Homo sapiens: one gene and its partner. The protein of the gene in region 1 purifies or fractionates together with the protein of each later gene. This does not show direct contact. Each region holds a gene or a part of one and is shown on either strand. Other genes may lie near its edges. The genes, in order: GZMK and ITGB7.

Evidence for each region.
Region 2: the proteins of GZMK (region 1) and ITGB7 purify together in Homo sapiens (affinity purification with mass spectrometry; one large-scale study listed by BioGRID and IntAct). This does not show direct contact.

The regions. Positions count from the first base shown.
Region 1 is NC_000005.10:55,026,935-55,030,755, forward strand, and holds part of GZMK (granzyme K precursor), read left to right. Parts: intron 1-3,499; coding exon 3,500-3,650; intron 3,651-3,821.
Region 2 is NC_000012.12:53,200,431-53,204,251, forward strand, and holds part of ITGB7 (integrin beta-7 isoform a precursor), read right to left. Parts: intron 765-3,821; 5' UTR 642-764; intron 24-641; exon of another isoform or gene 17-23; 5' UTR 14-16; coding exon 1-13. UniProt on the Homo sapiens protein: Integrin ITGA4/ITGB7 (alpha-4/beta-7) (Peyer patches-specific homing receptor LPAM-1) is an adhesion molecule that mediates lymphocyte migration and homing to gut-associated lymphoid tissue (GALT).

The DNA of each region.
Region 1 (3,821 bases):
TAGATGGAACCTTCCACAGCCCCTTCCACATGGCCTCACTCCATCTCAAATGCTCAAGGCTCCTGGAACAAAATGGTTCAATGTTCAGGCTCTAGATTCAAGCCAACTGAGCTTTAATCCTGCCCGAATTTGCCTCCTGGAGGCAAAGGTCCTCAAGTTTATTCGTTTACCTGAACCTCAATTTCTTCATCTATAAAATGGGGATTGTCATAATACCTATCTCACCACGCTGTTGTGCGGTTTAAATGAGGGAAGCTTTGTAAAATGCTTAGCACAGAACACAAAGAACTTAATAGATGTTATCGAGTATTGTTATACAATTATCTGTGCCTTCCATGGTAATAACCAAGGAACTAATCTGATGTTGACGAGATAAGACTGGGAAGACCTCCCTCTCTGACAGCCAAGTTCTTCTCCCTCTCTCTTAGGCAAGAGAAATCTCCAAGACATAGGGACCCTGCCTTTGCTGCCAGACCTCAAGGGGCGGGTCTAAGCAGAACCACTGTTGAGTGTCCAGGCGCGCTGGCAGAGAAAAGAAGAGGCTTGAAGGGGGTTGGCACGGGGTTCAAAGAGGGATTGAGGAAAGAGCACTGGACTGGGAGTCACCAAAAGCCAAATTTGGGTCCTGATTCCCCTATTTATGAGGTGTGTCACCTTGGACCAGTCAGAGAACAATCTTTTACTGGTAAGGAATACACAGCCCGTCAGCTTTACCAGCCTTGAAAAAGGTTATTGTTAGGCTCAATGGAGACAATGTTTACAGATGTCTTCAGCAGACCCACTATAAGCCGCACTGTAGTTCTGCTCCATATATGAATCTCTTCCAGGAAAGCTCAGGGTGGGACTCCGGAAACCACATTTTAAACCAACACCTCCAGGTGATTCTGAAGCAAGTCTGAAGACTGCATTTGGGGAAATCCTGTGCTGTGCAACTGAAAAACACTGGCATTATTACTTCCTCTTTGTGTGAATTCAGACTTCAGTTTAGCTAAGGAGGTGGCATCCCAGAACTCAAGTAATTCCAGGTACCCTGTGGGCAGAAAATTTGACCTGAGTAGCACAGATTACAGTTGAAGGATATCTAGAAATTGAAAGGTCAGAAGGAATAATGGTCTGCTTGGGTTGTTTTTGGTCTTAACATGTCCCAGTGGAGACAAAAATAACCAAAACATTTCAAAGGCAATAACTAGCCGAGTAAATTAGTAAAAGACGAAAGAAACCCAGACATTTTTTCAGCATCCCTCCCTTAGTGAGAATCCACCCTCCATACCTCTCATTTGTACCTCATAGCCTTCTTTGTGTGAGTCATTTAGGCACGTGCCCACCTTTCTGTTAGAGCATTCATCCTGAAGATTTTTATGTCATCCTTCTCCTACAAAGTTTTGGGTTTAGTGGGTATGTTGAATTTGAATTCAAATCAATCCTAGGAAATCCAGTCCACATCCTATGAGAAATTTCCACCCGGTCCTGATTTTGCAATAGGCAAACTTTTCAACAAATAGAGCTGGAATTCCCAAAATAAATAAAAATAAACTCTTTTGGTAGAAACCAAAAAGTGGTCATTCCAGGCAGTCACAGCTCTGCCATAAGCAAACCCACTCTACCACAGGCATTTGCCATTTTCAAATCTGAAACAATCATGTCTTCCTTTTTCTGTATGTTTCTGTGCTCTTTGTAACTTTTATTAATCTTTATTAATCTATATGCATGAGTATGTGTGTTTTTACTGCAATCTACTTTGGTAGCTTTTCCAAGTAGCAAAGAAATAGTTACATGTAAACAAACAAATACAATTAAAAGATCTGAGGTGGACTTCATAAAGATAGACACTGTAATGGAATGTATCTGTAGTATACAAATGGCTCTACGGTTCTGCCAAAATCTCCAAAAAATTATTTCTACTTTATCACTGCTGTAAATGTAATTTTATCCAACAAAGAGTAAATCAGATCAATTGTGGCACTGTTGAAACACTGGTACTAGAACTGTGTATGACCAGAGATTTAAAAAGCAAACCTTGCCAGGCACAGAGACTCACGCCTGTAATCCCAGCACTTTGGGAGGCTGAGGCCAGTAGATCACCTGAGGTCAGGAGATTGAGACCACCCTGGCCAACATGATGAAATTCCGTCTTTACTAAAAATACAAAAATTAGCCAGGTGTGGCGGCACAAGCCTGTAGTCCCAGCCTCTCGGGAGGCTGAGGCAGGAGAATCGCTTGATCCTGGGAGGCGGAGGTTGCTGTGAGCCGAGATGGCGCCACTGAACTCCAGCCTGGGAAACAGAGCAAGACTCCTTCTCAAAAAAAAAAACGTTAAAAAAGAAAGCCAAAAAACAAACCTATTTCTTCACCTCACTCACCAGTTCGTATCCTCTAAATCTCCCCGATGGAATGGCTACTAACCTTAAAGTATCTTCATTTTAAATTAGCACTGTTTTCTTACCTTGAGGAAAGTTTTCCTTTCTTGTCCAAATCTTTGTTCTAATTGAGGGGACAGGACATATGGACATATCTGACTGTCATGTAATAGGCCTTACTTCCCCACATTGACCTGAGATGAAGTCTAGGCATGTGGGTGAGCAAGTGTAGGGTGGGGATCTTTGTGGTTTTTGTTTGTTTGTTTGTTTGTTTGTTTGTTTGTTTTTAAGAGATGGGGCCTTGTTCTGTCACCCAGGCTGTGACACTTCAGCCTCCAGCTCCAGGACTCAAGCAATCCCTCCTGCTTCAGCCTCTCAAACAGCTGGGACTGTAGGCATGCACCACCATGCCCAGCATGCACCAGTGTGCCCCTTAATGTTTTTTTAGAGATGGGGGTCTCACTGTATTGCCCAGGTTTCTCTCAAACTCCTGGCCTCAAATGATCCTCCCACCTCAGTCTCCCAAGTGGCTGGGATTACAGGCATGAGCCACCACACCTGGCTACCTTAATTATTAAAACACTTAATGTTGGGAAGATAAAAAAAGTTCTGGGGTTCTGGAGATGATAGTGGTGGATGAACAACAATATACATGTCCTTCATACCACCAAACTGTACATTAAAGAATGGTTAAAATGGTAAATTTTACCATTCTTATACCATTATGTATACTTTACCACAATAAACAAATTTTAATGGTAGTTGGTGTAAATCTCAAACTACAAACTCAAGGAATATAATTTGCTTTATTTTTACATAAATGAACATAATTTTGTTTTAAACTTGATCTAAGTCAATTAGGATTTCACTCCTTTTTCTTCCCCCAGTTGGATACAAGTTCTGATATTCTTTTGCAATGCCAGGGAATTGGTTTAGGGTGGGATTAAGGGCAAGTCATTTGGCCCTTAATATCAATTCATGCTGGGCTCCACTAAGACCTTTGTCACTCCACCTAATCTTAGGCAGGTTACCTTGGAGATAGCCCTTGTTTCTCTGTGTATACAACCCTCTCGACCATCACCACTCCCCACTGGGGGATTTGGAAATCATTCTGCTGCTTTCATTGTCTTTGCTTTTTTTAGGTTTACCAAAGGCCAGTCTCCCACTGTGGTTTTAGGCGCACACTCTCTCTCAAAGAATGAGGCCTCCAAACAAACACTGGAGATCAAAAAATTTATACCATTCTCAAGAGTTACATCAGATCCTCAATCAAATGATATCATGCTGGTTAAGGTAGGTAGTAGCATTGTCTTCCTTCTATTTTGTCAACATTTTTATACAGGATGGCTCAATTAGTTAAATCACCTACAAAATGCATTTTGCTAGCACCCTCCCCATGTTTGAGGTGATTATGATATATTTTATAAGGGCCCATGTTATTCCATATACTGTCTTGAAAGAAAC
Region 2 (3,821 bases), on another chromosome or scaffold:
GCAAAGCCACCATGCCCTGTAATAGGATATAAAGGGGGACATGTGGGTCCTCAGGGAGGACTCTCAAACTCTCAGTCCTCTAAACTTAGCTTGTGGTTATCACTCTCAAAACTCTGCCCCAACACTTTATCTCCCCTCATAGTTTCACTTCCCCTGTGGATTCAGCAGTTTCTTCAAAATAATGGGAAGGAGCAGGTATCACGCAAAGGTAGGGGCCTCCGGACGTGGTGGCTCATGCCTGTTATCTCAGCACTTTAGGAAGCCAAGGTGGGTGGATCACCTGAGCTCAGGAATTCGAAACCAGCCTAGTCAACATGGCGAAACCCCATCTCTACTAAAAATACAAAAATTAGTCAGGCATGGTGGCGTGCACCTGTAATCCCAGTTACTCAGGAAGCTGAGGCAAGAGAATTGCTTGAACCAGGGAGGCGGAGGTTGTAGTGAGCCGAGATCACACCACTGCACACCAGCCTGGGTGACAAAGCAAGAATCTGTCTTAAAAAAAAAAAAAATAGGGGCCTCAGAGAAGATCTGTCCTTCCTGTGTGCAGACTTCATGTGGCCAAGGTGGGCAAAATGGCCTACTAAAGGATTTGGGGACTGAGCCTGAAAGCACTAAAGTCTGCACCCAGTTCTATTTACCGAGATCCCAAGCCGTAGTGGTAGAAGAGCCAAACAGGAAACAGACCAGATTCTGGTGCTGCTGCAGTCACTCACTGGCTGTGGGGCAAGTCAGACTTTCTCTCTGGGCTTTAGTTTCCACATCTGCAAAGTGGAGAAGTTGAATAAATAGTCTGACATACTTGGCGGCTTTTACAATCTTGGATTCTAAATAAGAGAAGAGGGTCAGTGACTGGGAATTAAAGAAAAGAAAGCTGGAGCAGATGAGGGAGTGTGTGAAAGAGTCAAGGAAGAATAGTTCTGCTTGGTTGACATGGTAGCAAGAGGAATGAAGATTAGACCACAAGAACTCTCTGCAGGTCTGGGATAAGGGGAGAAAGGCCAGTGTTGGCAAAAAAATTTTCTACTTTCTGTACTTTGCACAAAGATAATCTAGATTGAAGAAAGAGCCTGGAGACAGGGTAATACCTTGAGTGACCTTCAGGAAAGCCAAGCAAATTCCTGATTTTAAAAAAACATATTAATTTTTTAAAATGAGCAGGTAATTCATTTACCACGCTTCATAAGTCAAAAAGTTAAATCCCATTGGCCCTTTTTTTTTTGCAGAAATGGAAAAGCTGATCCTAAAATTTATATGGAATTGCTCGGAACCCCAAATAGCCAAAATAATCTTGTAAAAAAGATACTGCAAAGCTACAGTGATCAAGACAGCATTGGCTGGTCGCAGTGGCTCATGCGTGTAATCCCAGTGCTGGTGAGAAGACAGCTTGAACCCAGTAGTTTGAGGCTGCAGTGAGCTATGATCGTGTCACTGTACTTTGCCCTGGGCAACAGAGTGAAACCCTGTCTCTTAAAAAGAAAAAAAGAAGACAGTGTGGTACTGGCATAAGGATACACATATATTATACATCAGTGGAATAGAATTGAAAGAGTCCAGAAATAAACTATGCTTCTGTGGCCAATTGATTTCCAACAAGGGTGCCAAACCATTCAATGAGAAAAACTGTCTTCAAAAAATGGGGCTGGGGCTGGGCACAGTGGCTCATGCCTGTAATCCCAGCACTTTGGGAGGCCGAGGCAGGTGGATCACTTGAGGTCAGGAGTTCGAGACCAGCCTGGACAACATGGTGAAACCCCGTCTCTACTAAAAATACAAAAACTAGCTGGGTGTGGTGGTGGGCGCCTGTAATCCCAGCTACTCAGGAGGCTGAGGCAGGAGAATCACATGATCCCAGGAGGCAGAGGTTGCAGTGAGCTGCAATTGTGCCACTGCCCTGCAGCCTGGACAACAGAGTGAAACTCTGTCTTTTTTGTTTTGTTTTGTTTTTTTGAGATGGAGTCTTGCTCAGGCTGGAGTGCAGTCGCGCCATCTCAGCTCACTGCAACCTCTGCCTCCCAGATTCAAGCAATTCTCTGGCCTCAGGCGCCCAAGTATCTGGGACTACAGGCATGCGCCACCACACCCGACTAGTTTTTGTATTTTTAGTAGAGAGAGGGTTTGACCACATTGGCCGGGCTGGTCTCAAACTCCTGACCTCAAGTGATCCACCTGCCTCAGGCTCCCAAAGTGCTGGGATTACAGGCATGAGCTGGGATTACATGCCCAGCTGAAACTCCATCTTTAAAAAAAGGCCAGGTACCGTGGCTCATGCCTGTAATCCCAACACTTTGGGAGGCCGAGACAGGCAGATCACAAGGTCAGGAGTTCAAGACCAGCCTGGCTAACATAGTGAAACCCCGTCTCTACTAAAAATACAAAAATTAGCCGGGTGTAGTGGCACACGCCACCACTTTTTCTCAAAAAATAAAAGGTGCTTTCAACATGCAAAAGAATGAAGTTGGACCCCCTCCCCACCTCACACCATATACAAAGGTTAACTGAAAAGAGATCAAAGCCCTAAATATAACTACTAAAACTATAAATTCTTAGAAGAAAGTATATAGGTAAATCTTCATAATCTTGGACTTGGTAATGGATTCTTAGCTGTAATACCAAAAGCACAAACAACAAAAGGAAAAACAGATACATTGGACTTCATCAAAAATTTAAAGTTTTGTGCATCAAAGACAATGTCAAGAGAGCGAAGACAACCCACAGAATGGGAGAAAATATTTGCAGATTATATATCAGATGAGTATCCTTAATATATAACGAACTCTTACAATTCAACAACAAAAAGACAACCCAACTTTCAAAATGAGCAAAAGACTTAAAAAGACATTTCTTCAAAGAAGATAGACAAATAGCCACCCAGCAAATGAAAAGATGCTCAACACTATTAATCATTAGGAAAATGCAAATGAAACCCACAATGATCTGGGTATGGTGGCTCACACCTGTAATCCTAGCACTTTGGGAGGCTGAGGTGGGTGGATCACTTGAGGTCAGGAGTTCAAGACCGGCCTGGGCAACATGGTGAAACCCCATCTTTGCTAAAAATACAAAACTTAACTGGGCATGGTGGTACATGCCTGTAGCTCCAGCTACTCGGGAAACTGAGGCACAAGAATCGCTTGAACCCGGGAGGCAGAGGCTTCAGTGAGCCAAGATCGGGCCACTGCACTCCAGCCTAGGCGACAGAGCGAGACCCTGTCTCAAAAAAAAAAAAAAAAAAAAAAAAGAAAGAAAGAAAAGAAAAGAAGAAGAAAAAAACCACAATGAGATACCACTTCACTTCTACTAGAATGACTATCAAAAAATGAAAAACAATGAGTGTTGATGAGAACATGGAGAAATTGGGATCTTTATACATTACCGTGTAAGGAATGTAAAGTGGTACAATCTCTGTGGAAAACAATTTGGTTCCTCAATAAATTGAGCATAGGATTATCCTATAACCTGGCAATTTCACTCTTAGGTATATACTCAGAAGAATTGAAAACAGGTGTTCAAACAAAAACTGGTACAGAAATGTTCACAGCAGCACTACTCACAATAGCTAAAAGGTAGAAAGAACCCAGATGTCCATCAACTGATGAATGGATAAAGAAAAGGTGGTATATCCATACAGCAGAACGTTATTTGGCCATAAAAAGCAATGAAATGGGTCTGGGCACAGTGGCTCACGACTGTAATCCCAGCACTTTGGGAGGCCGAGGCGGGTGGATCACTTGAGATCAGGAGTTCAAAACCAGCCATACCAACATGGTGAAACCCCATATCTACTAAAAATACAAAAATTATCCAGGCATGGTGGTGGT